2 separate regions of the Homo sapiens genome follow, and region 1 is linked to region 2. The links come from fine-mapping of genetic effects on gene expression. A gene starts in region 2. The other region holds a variant in brackets. All regions are shown on one strand. Distances are from middle to middle.

Evidence for each region. PIP is the estimated chance that this variant, and not a neighbour inherited with it, causes the effect.
Region 1: its variant is fine-mapped to the expression of DNAH10 in fibroblasts (GTEx, PIP above 0.99).

The regions. Positions count from the first base shown.
Region 1 is chr12:123,907,624-123,910,123 of GRCh38, reverse strand. It overlaps DNAH10 (dynein axonemal heavy chain 10), which reads right to left. Exons shown (of 79, transcript NM_001372106.1): 58 at 682-863. Among named protein-coding and RNA genes, the nearest start is that of DNAH10OS, 26 kb to the left of the region's middle. RefSeq lists an enhancer at 1,988-2,282. The variant C/T (reference allele first, on the strand shown) is at 1,554.
Region 2 is chr12:123,760,519-123,763,429 of GRCh38, reverse strand. It overlaps DNAH10 (dynein axonemal heavy chain 10), which reads right to left and starts at 1,129. Exons shown (of 79, transcript NM_001372106.1): 1 at 880-1,129. The coding sequence starts at 1,093. It overlaps ATP6V0A2 (ATPase H+ transporting V0 subunit a2), which reads right to left. Exons shown (of 20, transcript NM_012463.4): 20 at 1,675-2,911. RefSeq lists a silencer at 1,129-1,548.

The DNA of each region.
Region 1 (2,500 bases), 150 kb before region 2:
TAGTGGTTGGGGTCATTTGTGTTGAGATTGCTTTTGTTTTTAAGGGGCTAAGAAAAAGCATTTGATAAGAGTCTAAATAAACCATCAAACACAGCGTTAACTTGTATTGCTTTTCGCAAAGACTAACACCATTACACTATCACCGCCTGGCTGAGCACTGGGCAGGGTCAGGAACTGAGCTCAAGGGGAACTCAGTCCTATAACCAAAGATGGAGGAGAGGCTGGCCATCAGTGATGCTGCCCACCCCCATGCCCACTCCCCAGGGACCTCCAGAAGACTTGACACTGACAAGAGGAGAAAGGGGGGAAGTCAAGGTCAGACTAGCTCTGGGCTTCTGCATGTGCACTGAACAGCACTGGGTGAGATGCACAGAAGACAAGGCTGGGCTAGGTTCCAATGAGAAGATCCTGTTTCCTGACACGGAGAGCTAGGACTAGTGCCGAATCGAACCCTCAGTGGGCACGGCTGCCGCCGCGCATCCCCAGCCACTCTCCCTGGGTCACGTCATGGGGCTGCTGTTTTCCTCTGGTGACCATCAGTTGCCTGTTCCATCCGATACCATCTGACCAGAAGGGGAGGGCCTGCCCACGACAAGCCTCCTTGCCCTCCATCCCTGTCCCAGAGCCTGAGATGCCAGACCGAGATCCACCCTGGCGATTCCCACACGTGGCTACACTCACCTTTGATGTTTTTCACTTGGCTCTGGGTAATCGAATCAAAATCAATCTCCATCAGAGACCGCAGGAAATTCGGGTCGGACATCACGCCCTTGGCTGTTTTCCAGTTCAGCTCTTTGTACCCTTTCATGATGAGGATGCATTCGCAGACCGTCTGCACCTGCTTCGGGGGCTTAGCAAACGACCTGGCAAGAAACCAAGGCACGTGGGTCACAACCCCGGGATGTGGCCAGGATCTGGCCTGAAAGAGAGCTCCAGAAAAACGAGCTCAACCAAAAGACAGTCCCTGGAGCTACTGCTGCAAGCAAACGAAAGAAGCCAGGTCCCAACACAAACCGCACTCCTGGGCGGGAGCGTCCCTAAGGGCAGGGCCGGGTCCCCCTCTCAGGTTCCAGACCAGGCGCCTGGAATGGTGCGGGGGCAGCATTAAAATACAAACCCAGGCCGTCCCCGGAGCGTCTGGATCAGTGGTTAGGGGGCAGCCTGAGCACCTATGTTTTAATTACACCCTCGGCTGATTCCTCAGACTCTAAATGGTGGCTGCCGTCATTATTGTCATTATCATCATCATCATCACCATCACCATCACCACCAACCATTATCTCTCCCCATTTACTAGATGGACAAACAGGGTCCTGGGAGCTTGCATGACTGGCTGTGCTGACACCGCCTGGGAAGCCTGGGGTCCCCGCATCCTGGGCTCTTTCCAGGCTATGTTGCCCCGTAATTGTGTTCTGTGGCTTTGATAAGACTAGATCATCACTCTGCTCCTCCAGAACGCAGATGTCCACTGCCCTTGTTCCTCTGGAGAACCAGAACTGCCAACGGAACAGGAGACAGAACAGCAGCGCTGGTACAAAGGCCAGAGAAGGAAC[C/T]GAACCCATCTCACCGGGGCATCCCACTGCCAGGCAAGGTCAGTGAAAGCCACAGGAGTCTCCCAGACCACGCCATGGAAAGACAGAAGTGGAAGAGAACAGCACAGACAAGGCAAAGCAGGAGAGGAAGGAAAAGCAGGAGAGAAGAGCAGGAGACAGAGGTCCCGGAGGGCATGGATGCAGTGTGGGGGCGGCCAGGCAGGGGCCCAGGCATTTGTGCTCTGGTAGGAGGCTGGGGTGAGCCAGAGAAGAAAGAGGGGGATGGAGGGACAGAGGGGGAGACACATGCACAAGAACAGAGACAGGGAGACAGGGAGGAGACAGAGAGACAGGGAGGAGACAGGAAGACAGGGAGGAGACAGGGAGGGGACAGAGAGACAGGGAGGAGACAGAGAGACAGGGAGGAGACAGGGAGACAGGGAGGAGACAGAGAGACAGGGAGGAGACAGAGAGACAGGGAGGAGACAGGGAGACAGGGAGGAGACAGAGAGACAGGGAGGAGACAGCCTGAGCAGACAGCAACCTGGAGGCTTTCTGCAGTGAGCAAATCCCCCACCCCTCCTGACCCCGGAACCCTCACACACTCCCACACAGACAGCAGAGGAGAGAAGGCCCCATAGTGTACGGACAAGCCAGGGCAACAGCCAGGAGGGAGGGCGCCCACACTTCAGCACAAAGCCCAGTGATGAAAGAAAGGCCCTGAGTCCCCGGGAAAAGGCTCGATCACGCTGGTGTTGGCTGCTTAGGAAAGCGGCGGGGCTGTCAAGTGTCTTTAAAAGGTCCCTTCAGGGTGGATGGAAACCAGGCCCCGGCCACCGCTCTGTGAACAAGCAGGTGGGGAAAGAATGGGGCAGATGTTTTCAGATTCAAGACAGAAGGAGCCCAGGCCTGCGGCGGGGTCCTGAGCCCTTGGGCAAGTTAGGAACCAGCCAGGGCGTCAGTTTCCC
Region 2 (2,911 bases):
TAGCCCAGGAGACTGGACAGCCAGGCAGGAGGTCCCGGTAGCTGTGCTCCAGCTGGTGCTCCTGCGAGGAGGCGGCTTTCGAGGTCCCAGTCTCCTTCTAGCTGTTTCTGAAGCGAGTTGTCCTGCCTCCTCCTCTCACCTGTGCTGGCCCCTCCCTGCCCTCTCAGTGTCCCTGGCCTATCAGAGAGTAGGTGGGGCTGGGGATCCGCCTCCACAGAGGGTTCTGGGACCCTGGTCACTGTCTTTTTGTATTTGCGATGCTAATTTGTTCAACATAAACATTTAAAGTCTACTGTAGTTTTTAAACTTTGTCCTAGCCTTATTTTACTTTTTAGGATATAAGGAGCCTCCAGAAGTAGAAAGGGGTGCTCTTCGGACCCTCCGTGAGAGGCTGCGACCGTCAAGGAGAGTGACAGTGACCTGGGTCCCTGCCACACCTGGGCATGGCTCTACCCAGCCGTTCGGATTATTGCACAGTGGATCTTGACGCCCCGTGGGCCTTGGGCAGGTTACTTAACCCCCTCCGTGCCAGTTTGCTCATCTGTAAAATAGGGATGAGGATACACCCGCCTCGTAGGGTTAAGGAGTTGATACAAGCGTTGGAACCGCACCTGGCACGGGGTGCGGGCTAAGTCAGTGTTTGCTGTGATTTTTCAATCAAGGCCTGACTTTCAAGTGGGCTGTGGGCCCAGGAGGGCAGGGACGGCTGTGATTGCTGGGTTCGCCCGGGGCCTGCACGTGGCGGGCGGCAGCGTTTGTGGACAGCACCTGAGGCCGGGGCCGGACGATGGGCAGGCTCTAGCAGCCCCGGCGCCCGCCGGAGAGGCCGGGACGGGCAGGAGGGAAGCCCGGGGAAGGGAGCGGCGCGTCGAGGCTCACCAATCTCCACCTCCACCTCCTCCGGCACCATAGTGCGGTAGATGAAGAGCGCCGAGGGCCCCTCCTCCTCGCTCGCCTGGTTGAGGAAGTGCAAGATGAGGTCCTCGCCCTGGCCGTCGTCGCGGTTGAGCAGGTCCTCGAAAAGCTGGGGGTCGGTGATGCCGAAAGCCGCATACACGCGGTCGCGCATCCACAGCACCCGCAGGTCGTCCATGGCGCCGCGCAGTGCAGAGGGAGCCGGGCGCAGGGCGGGCGTCCGTGGCAACGGCGGCCCTAGCAATGGGCGCCCCGGAAACGGCCGCAGCTCGCCCCGCCGACGGCGCCGGCGCTGGGGGCTGCAAGCTCGGCAGTGCCCCGCGCCCGGCCCCTCGATCCCGAACCCGCGAGCCGCAGCCCACGCCCCGGCCCCGGGATCTCGGAGGCGCGCACCAGGCCCCCGGGCCGCCGAGGTAGGCTGGTTGCTCCCTGGCCCCGGCAGCGCGCACGCCCCTGGATGCGGAGCGGGACCCTCGCCGCCAGGAGCCGCCCTCGGGCCGCTGCAGCCGAGGGTGCGACCCCACCCCACGCCGACCGGTTTGCAAGCAGCCCGCCCACCTTGCAGATGAAGCTGGGGCTAGAGAGTTGGCGAGACGAAGGTCACAGCACCTCGGCGGTGGCAGAGGCGGGATTAGAGGCCAGACGAGGAGGAAATAAGCCGAGAAAGCACGAGTTCCTCATGGCCTACAAAATCAGGGAAGGAGCAGAGTTCTTTAGCTTTCTTGCCAAACTAGAGCATAATAAAGCAAAACACCCACGTTTAAAAATATAGATATATTTATTTGTCATTAGCAAAAGGAAGTTAAATACTGATAGAAGATGCAAATTTGTCCTTTCATGCATTTGTGGAGCAAAGTACTAACTTGTTCACTGTCATTTCCCCTCACAAGGAGTTGAGCCCCTAGATGACTCAGGCTAACCCTAAGAACCTACCTAGCCTTCTTAGATATTCCCATCAAAGAACAGGTGGAGTGTACTAAGTATTTCTGAAAATTCTAAACCAAATCAGCAAAAATGGCCTGACTGTGGGAAGACTGTTCGTTCAAACTGCCTTATTCCCATCATCTTGATTTGACAGCTTCATAATAACCTTCCTGGATATATTCCCTGTGGCACGCAAGCAAACCCGGCTTTACGTTTTTAATAGAGGAATTTATTGTTTTAAATGCGGACTGTAGAATAGGTGTAGAAGTTGTTTTTCTTTTCCAAAATGTATCAGGCTCTAAAACGTCTGAATATGTAATTCATGGACATCGTAAGGCTGACCTATGCTACAGGTATTCTGTGCCTTATTAAACAACTGCAGAGGGCCAGGCGCGGTGGCTCACGCCTGTAATCCCAGCACTTTGGGAGGCCAAGGTGGGTAGATCACCTGAGGTCAGGAGTTTGAGACCAGCCTGGCCAACATGGTGAAACCCTGTCTCTACTAAAAATACAAAAATTAGCCGGGCACTGTGGCAGGCGCCTGTAATCCCAGCTACTCGGGAGGCTAGGGCAGGAGAATTGCTTAAACCCAGGAGGCAGAGGTTGCAGTGAGCCGAGACTGCACCACTGCACTTCAGCCTAGGTGACAGAGTGAGACACTGTCTCAAAAAAAATAAAAAAATTTTTAAATAAACAACTGCTGAGGGGATGCTGACACCAGAATGTTGTTATAAAATATCCATTCCAGAAACAGAGCAGCATTCAGCGAAAGAGGAGTTCCAAGTCCTTTCGCTGCTGGAAAGTCCGCAGGGCTCACCCAGATCCTATCAGACAGAACACCCTTTGCACTCCTTAACTGACCACGGCAATTACAGTCTCCAGCCCAGCAGGTTGAATCAAAGTCTAGTTTACTGAAGAAATCCCTTGGGTTTTAAGATTCTGTTAACACATGGTAATAAACATCTAAATAAAAACTGAGAAATGTCGTGTCGTGACATTTATCTTTAGGAAAATAAACATATTCAGTATCATCCACACAACTTGCCATCTGTGCTCTGGATCTCTGCTATCA